Regions from separate parts of the Homo sapiens genome. Here region 2 is linked to region 1. The links come from fine-mapping of genetic effects on gene expression. A gene starts in region 1. The other region holds a variant in brackets. All regions are shown on one strand. Distances are between the middles of the regions. Region 1 holds the start of MS4A7 (membrane spanning 4-domains A7). Region 2 overlaps MS4A5 (membrane spanning 4-domains A5).

What was found. PIP is the estimated chance that this variant, and not a neighbour inherited with it, causes the effect.
Region 2: its variant is the best candidate, but not a certain one, in a credible set for the expression of MS4A7 in left ventricle (GTEx, PIP 0.84).

The regions. Positions count from the first base shown.
Region 1 is chr11:60,376,633-60,381,029 of GRCh38, forward strand. It overlaps MS4A7 (membrane spanning 4-domains A7), which reads left to right and starts at 1,900. Exons shown (of 7, transcript NM_021201.5): 1 at 1,900-2,032. RefSeq lists enhancers at 932-1,171, 1,852-1,901.
Region 2 is chr11:60,437,598-60,441,994 of GRCh38, forward strand. All of the region lies in intron 4 of MS4A5 (membrane spanning 4-domains A5), which reads left to right. Among named protein-coding and RNA genes, the nearest start is that of MS4A5, 10 kb to the left of the region's middle. The variant G/C (reference allele first, on the strand shown) is at 2,685.

The DNA.
Region 1 (4,397 bases):
TCCAAGGCTGTTAGAGTCCTCCAACATATAAGACGCATTTCCATTTTACTAGCTTCATGGTCTGCTTGGGGTGGGGATGGCGGGGAGATCGTATCCTTGAAGTAGGCACTAGGACTGTGAGTCACTTGCCTGTCTAGAGCACCAGGACTGTTTGCAAAGGGCTGAGGAGATTTCCATCAATGGAAAAGAGCATGAATTTAGAGTAAACATAGATTACACTTAGAGATCAGAGATCAATCTAGAGATAAAATACACTTTTCTCTAAAGGGGGTGGGAGAAGATGTTGGACAAGAAATACCAGATTTTCTTAATGGTTCATTTATGTCAGGCTCTATGGTGGGGACTTTTATGTTATTTGACTTAATCCTCACAACAATTCTGAAAAATCTTTTTTCAAATTTTATGAGAAAGTGAACTGGATATTTAACTGATTTTCTCACGAATTCCTTCTGAGGCTCAGAAGTGTGAAAGAAGCCCAAATGACCAAGGTTCTTTAACAATTTGGTCAAAACAGGTCATAGACCCAGAGGAAGGTCTGGATCCTGGAAGTTTTCTTAAGCAAAGACAGTGCTTGTTGTGGATATGAAGATGTTGACTAAGCTGGGCACAGTGGCTCACACCTGTAATCCCAGCTTTGGGAGGCCAAGGCAGGTGGATCACCTGAGATCAGGAGTTCGAGACCAGCCTGACCAACATGGTGAAATCCTGTCTCTAGTAAAAATACAAAAATTAGACAGGCATGGTGGTGGGCACCCATAGTCCCAGCTACTGGGGAGGCTGAGGCAGGAGAATCACTTGAACCTGGGAGGTGGAGGTTACAGTGAGCTGAGACTGCACCATTGCACTCCAGCCTGAGCAACAAGAGCAAAAAACTCCATCTCAAAAAAAAAAAAAGATGTTGACCAAATGGCAGACTCTTGCCATGAAGCAAGCCCAGACCTCAGTGCCAAGAGATGTGAATTAGATTCCTGCCTCTTCCACAGACTAGACATGTGACTGGGGGCAGATTCCTTCAGCAATATCACCTCATTTGGAGAAGAACTGGACTAAAATACCCTCCAAGTAGTTTATGAGTTATTTAAATCTCCCAGGCTTAGGTTTGCTCCTCTCTTAGGGGATAGCCTTGCCACCCTTCAGGAAATGGAGACTGTATATGGAGCATGTTGTGCCGCCAGCTGCTGCATGTCCCAGAGCCATCTTAAACCCTACCCTTCTGAACAATGGCTAGTCTACAAGAAGCCTTAAAAGGGATGTGAAAGTGGCAACAGTGTCCCCTCAACAACAAATACTTCCCCAAATATGAGCTTGTGTGGAGCCTGATGACTCTGCCTCTGAGGCCAATCCACTGGCATCTTTCCCAAGATGTGCCTGGACTTCCCTGAGCATGAGGCCAAAGATGGAGAATGGAAACACCCAAAAGAAGTAACAAGGAGACACGGAATTTTCCACAGGTTGCTTTCAGCTTACCAAGAGCCTGGAAAGTGAGAGAATAGATTCTCCAAAATTCAAAACTAACATTACTATTATCAATATTTATTGTCTACTTTTTGTAAACTCTTTGCATCTTTTTTCTTTAATTCTCCCAACACCCACAGAGTGGAATTATTATTATCCATCCACCATTTATTTAATAGACAAGAAAACTCAGGCTAAGCAAAACTAGATGACTTAAATAATTCTATGTAGGAGTAGGGAAAATGAATTTTAACTGGGACCGTACAAATCACTAGTCTGCACAAAGGTCTTTTTCTCATGTGTCACTTCTATCTTGTGTCATTTTGCCAGACCTCAGAATTTAGAAAGAGGAAGCAGAGGCACTTTTTATATATCAACTGTCTGTAACTACAGCAAAATTCACATCCTGTGTAATCATAAATACTGCTCTAAGAAAGGGACAGGAAGTCTCAGAGGCTGGAGAGCAGAGCACCAAGATCGTTCTGGCAGGAACAGCCAGTGGGAGGTTCCAGCTGAGCGCTCCCCAGAGGTGAGCTGATCCCCAGCCACAGCACACAGGACCAGGCTGCGAGAACAGGTAGACACCTTGGTTTAGATCATGACTTTTGGGGAAGATTGTGTGCTTTTGAAAAGACAGCCAGGGAATTGGATTATCATCCTGTCTCTGATTCTGACCACCTGTGTGAGTTGGAGCGTCAGCTCAGTCCCCTTTTTGGGTCTCAGTTTACTCACTTGTCAAATAAGAAAATTGGGTAAAACCATTCTTAGGTTTCCCTCATTGAGGTGATTTTCCTCAATGTTCTGCATTCTCCTGGTGTGTCACTCAGTCTTACAGAGTCTACTCTCAACAAATACTGTGCAATTAGACTGAATCTTGCATTAGAACCCCATGGTCCTACTCTAATTCTGTAATACAGAAAATTGCTGGGCAGAGCTGTTGACCTCCATGTCATGATTTATCTTCAAAGCACGGATTTTAGAGCTGTCTTGAAAGCTGTGGGTCCCTCCAGTCTATCTCCTCAAGGCGAATGTGGAAGGACAAAGCATCCTCTCAGACTGTGGTGTTTGGAGATGATAGCATCAGTCTGGAGACTTTTGTGAAACATAAAGAATCTTGGTTATATAGGATTCCTTCTAAAAGTAGCAACGTGTATCTAAATTCAAGTGTCATAGATTTAAATGTAATAATTCCACTTCCATACATCACTGTGAGATAATTAAATGCAGGAGGTATCACAAAAGTGCAAAGATGTTCATTATTGCATTGTTCATAGTGGCAAAAAGAAAAAATAGAAACCACCTAAATAGTCATGAACATGTGATTGATTAAATGAATCTAGAGACCTCCATTTATTTAAATATACCATTTGGCTTTTTGGTTGTAGTAAAATATGCTTAAAATAATTGTAGCCTTTTAACCATGTGTTTTTTTGTTGTTTTTTGTTTGTTTGTTTGTTTGTTTTTTAATTGAGAAAGAGTTTTGCTCAGTCACCCAGGCTAGAGTGCGTGATCTCGGCTTACTGCAACCACTGTCTTCCAGGTTCAAGCGATTCTCCCATCTCAGCCTCCTGAGTAGCTGGGATTACAGGCACTCACCATCATGCCTGGCTAATTTTTGTATTTTTTTAGTAGAGACGGGGTTTCACCATGTTGGCCACGCTGGTCTTGAATTCCTGACCTCAGGTGATCTGCCCGCCTCGGCCTCCCAAAGTGCTAGGATTACAGGCATGAGCCGCTGCACCCAGCCTTAACCATTTTTAGGTGTACAGTTCAGTGGCATTAAGCACATTCACACCATTGTGCAACCATCACCACCACCCAACTCCAGAACTTTCTTGTCTTCCCAAACTGGAACTCCGTGCCCATTAAACAATAGCTTTCCATTCCCCTCTCCCGCCAGCCCCTGGCAACCACCATTCTACTTTCAGTGAATTTGACTCTTCTAGGTGCCTCACATAAGTAGAATCATACAATATTTGTCCTTTTGTGACTGGATTATTTCACTTGCCATATTGTCTTCAAGGTTCATCCATGTTGTGCCATGTATCAGAATCTATCATTTGCTTTTAAATTTAGGCTTTTTATTATTTCTATTCATCGGTCAAAGATGTCTACAGAATAATGTTGAGTACAAAAAGAACAGTTATAAAATGGCATGGATAGAATGACTATTTCCGTAGAATTGTGAATGTCTGTGAACATATATAAAGAGGAGAGAGATAAAGTGACAGATGGGAAGAGAGAATGTAAAGAATATGTGCATAGGAAACAAGAGTGATCGGGTGGCAGTTGAAAGTTAAGGAGCTAATTTGTTTTCTTCTTCAAACTGTATTCCCTTGTAATGGTGGTACTTTATGCACTCTTTCAAACAGAACAAACAGTTAAGAAATAACAAAGGAAAATAAATGTTCATGGTATCAGATAGGCTATAGCCTGAAAGTATCAATTAAACTTTCGAGTCCTAGCTTCAGGCTGAGAATCAAGCATTTTCTGCAGTCCTTAGGTATGAGATTCGAAAAATAAAGAAAGGAACCCAGAACTCAGGAGGCTGGTGACGAAGACTAGTAGGAAGGAGTCTAGTTGGTATATTTGGGCTATTGAGCCACACAGAGCAAGGTAAAAGCCAAGTTTCTACAACATGAAAGCAAGTTGGGAAAAAGAAATCTTCAACCTATATTCCCTAAGATCAGCAATGTCCCTGGGAGAGGATATGGAACTGATGAGTGGCAGCCAATGCTTCAACAATAGGGGAGGAAGAATAGAGAGGATGAGAATCAGTTGTAGCTAGCCGGGCAAGAACAAACCTACAGGGATATAGAAGAGCTCTGGTGTTAGATGGCCTGTGCCCAAATCTTGCCTCCACTACCTGCTAGATAAGCAATCTTGCACAAGCTATTTCACCTCTCCAAGCCTCATTTTTCTTATCTTCAAAGTTCAGCACC
Region 2 (4,397 bases), 61 kb after region 1:
ACAAAAAAAGGCAGGGGTTGCAATCCTAGTCTCTGATAAAACAGACTTTAAATCAACAAAGATCAAAAGAGACAAAGAAGGCCATTACATAATGGTAAAGGGATCAATTCAACAAGAAGAGCTAACTATCCTGAATATATATGCACCCAATACAGGAGCACCAAGATTCATAAAGCAAGTCCTGAGTGACCTACAAAGAGACTTAGACTCCCACACATTAATAATGGGAGACTTTAACACCCCACTGTCAACATTAGACAGATCAACGAGACAGAAAGTCAACAAGGATACCCAGGAATTGAACTCAGCTCTGCACCAAGCAGACCTAATAGACATCTACAGAACTCTCCACGCCAAATCAACAGAATATACATTTTTTTCAGCACCACACCACACCTATTCCAAAATTGACCACATATTGGGAAGTAAAGCTCTCCTCAGCAAATGTAAAAGAACAGAAATTATAACAAACTATCTCTCAGACCACAGTGCAATCAAACTAGAACTCAGGATTAAGAATCTCACTCAAAACTGCTCAACTACATGGAAACAGAACAACCTGCTCCTGAATGACTACTGGGTACATAATGAAATGAAGGCAGAAATAAAGATGTTCTTTGAAACCAATGAGAACAAAGACACAACATATCAGAATCTCTGGGATGCATTCAAAGCAGGATGTAGAGGGAAATTTAAAGCACTAAATGCCCACAAGAGAAAGCAGGAAAGATCCAAAATTGACACCCTAACATCACAATTAAAAGAACTAGACAAGCAAGAGCAAACACATTCAAAAGCTAGCAGAAGCCAAGAAATAACTAAAATCAGAGCAGAACTGAAGGAAATAGAGACACAAAAAACTCTTCAAAAAATTAATGAATCCAGGAGCTGGTTTTTTGAAAGGATCAACAAAATTGATAGACTGCTAGCAAGACTAATAAAGAAAAAAAGAGAGAAGAATCAAATAGACGCAATAAAAAATGATAAAGGGGATGTCACCACCGATCCCACAGAAATACAAACGACCATCAGAGAATACTACAAACACCTCTACGCAAATAAACTAGAAAATCTAGAAGAAATGGATAAATTCCTCGACACATACACTGTCCCAAGACTAAACCAGGAAGAAGTTGAATCTCTGAATAGACCAATAACAGGAGCTGAAATTGTGGCAATAATCAATAGCTTACCAACCAAAAAGAGTCCAGGACCAGATGGATTCACAGCCGAATTATACCAGAGGTACAAGGAGGAACTGGTACCATTCCTTCTGAAACTATTCCAATCAATAGAAAAAGAGGGAATCCTCCCTAACTCATTTTATGAGGCCAGCATCATTCTGATACCAAAGCCGGGCAGAGACACAACCAAAAAAGAGAATTTTAGACCAATATCCTTGATGAACATTGATGCAAAAATCCTCAATAAAATACTGGCAAACTGAATCCAGCAGCACATCAAAAAGCTTATCCACCATGATCAAGTGGGCTTCATCCCTGGGATGCAAGGCTGGTTCAATATATACAAATCAATAAATGTAATCCAGCATATAAACAGAGCCAAAGACAAAAACCACATGATTATCTCAATAGATGCAGAAAAAGCCTTTGACAAAATTCAACAACCCTTCATGCTAAAAACTCTCAATAAATTAGGTATTGATAGGACGTATTTCAAAATAATAAGAGCTATCTATGACAAACCCACAGCCAATATCATACTGAATGGGCAAAAACTGGAAGCATTCCCTTTGAAAACTGGCACAAGACAGGGATGCCCTCTCTCACCACTCCTATTCAACATAGTGTTGGAAGTTCTGGCCAGGGCAATTAGGCAGGAGAAGGACATAAAGGGTATTCAATTAGGAAAAGAGGAAGTCAAATTGTCCCTGTTTGCAGATGACATGATTGTATATCTAGAAAACCCCATTGTCTCAGCCCAAAATCTCCTTAAGCTGATCAGCAACTTCAGCAAAGTCTCAGGATACAAAATCAATGTACAAAAATCACAAGCATTCTTATACACCAACAACAGACAAACAGAGAGCCAAATCATGAGTGAACTCCCATTCACAATTGCTTCAAAGAGAATAAAATACCTAGGAATCCAACTTACAAGGGATGTGAAGGACCTCTTCAAGGAGAACTACAAACCACTGCTCAAGGAAATAAAAGAGGATACAAACAAATGGAAGAACATTCCATGCTCATGGGTAGGAAGAATCAATATCGTGAAAATGGCCATACTGCCCAAGGTAATTTACAGATTCAATGCCATCCCCATCAAGCTACCAATGACTTTCTTCACAGAATTGGAAAAAACTATTTTAAAGTTCATATGGGACCAAAAAAGAGCCCACATCGCCAAGTCAATCCGAAGCCAAAAGAACAAAACTGGAGGCATCACACTACCTGACTTCAAACTATACTACAAGGCTACAGTCACCAAAACAGCATGGTACTGGTACCAAAACAGAGATATAGATCAATGGAACAGAACAGAGCCCTCAGAAATAACGCCGCATATCTACAACTATCTGATCTTTGACAAACCTGAGAAAAACAAGCAATGGGGAAAGGATTCCCTATTTAATAAATGGTGCTGGGAAAACTGGCTAGCCATATGTAGAAAGCTGAAACTGGATCCCTTCCTTACACCTTATACAAAAATCAATTCAAGAT[G/C]GATTAAAGACTTAAACGTTAGACCTAAAACCATAAAAACCCTAGAAGAAAACCTAGGCAATACCATTCAGGACATAGGCATGGGCAAGGACTTCATGTCTAAAACACCAAAAGCAATGGCAACAAAAGACAAAATTGACAAATGGGATCTAATTAAACTAAAGAGCTTCTGCACAGCAAAAGAAATCACCATCAGAGTGAACAGGCAAGCTACAAAATGGGAGAAAATTTTTGCAACCTACTCATCTGACAAAGGGCTAATATCTAGAATCTACAATGAACTCAAACAAATTTACAAGAAAAAAACAAACAACCCCATCAAAAAGTGGGTGAAGGACATGAACAGACACTTCTTAAAAGAAGACATTTATGCAGCCAAAAAACACATGAAAAAATGCTCACCATCACTGGCCATCAGAGAAATGCAAATCAAAACCACAATGAGATACCATCTCACACCAGTTAGAATGGCAATCATTAAAAAGTCAGGAAACAACAGGTGCTGGAGAGGATGTGGAGAAATAGGAACACTTTTACACTGTTGGTGGGACTGTAAACTAGTTCAACCATTGTGGAAGTCAGTGTGGCAATTCCTCAGGGATCTAGAACTGGAAATACCATTTGACCCAGCCATCCCATTACTGGGTATATACCCAAAGGACTATAAATCATGCTGCTATAAAGACACACGCACACGTATGTTTATTGCGGCATTATTCACAATAGCAAAGACTTGGAACCAACCCAAATGTCCAACAATGATAGGCTGGATTAAGAAAATGTGGCATATATACACCATGGAATACTATGCAGCCATAAAAAATGATGAGTTCATGTCCTTTGTAGGGACATGGATGAAATTGGAAATCATCATTCTCAGTAATCTATCGCAAGAACAAAAAACCAAACACCGCATATTCTCACTCATAGGTGGGAATTGAACAATGAGATCACATGGACACAGGAAGGGGAATATCACACTCTGGGAACTGTTATGGGGTGGAGGGAGGGGGGGAGGGATAGCATCGGGAGATATACCTAATGCTAGATGACGAGTTAGTGGGTGCAGGGCACCAGCATGGCACATGTATACATATGTAACTAACCTGCACAATGTGCACATGTACCCTAAAACTTAAAGTATAATAAAAAAAAAGAAAAAGAAAAAGGCCATTAAAAAAAAAAAGAAAAAAAAAGAAAGGAGATAAGCCAATAGTTTTCCAAGCTGACTTAGAAACTCGACAAAAAAAATGGGTATATCCTTACTATTTGTCAGCATAACCTACCTTCTCTTATTATCTGTCAGTCTGAAATACTCCTCAATAATAAAAATGTCAAGACTTGAAAAAAAAAAAGAAAGAAATGATAAACTTTAAAATACCTCAGGGAATATAAAATAAAAGAAAGTGAACTAGAAGATTTTCTGTGTAAAACTATTATGTACCCATAAAAATAGAAAATTAAAAAATTTAAAATTTTAAAAAAAGATGGTCCCAGTAAATAAGAGTTTAAAAAACAAAACACAACTGCATTCTGTTTACAAGAAACAGCTACACTAGTAACAAACAAATAGATTTAAGGCAAGAAGCATTGCTAAACGTATAATAGGGGACTTTCTATAATAAAAGGGTCGATTCACAAGAGAAATATTACATTTCTAGGTTTGAATGCTCCTAATAACAACTCAAAGCCAAAAGGAAAAGCTAACTCAGC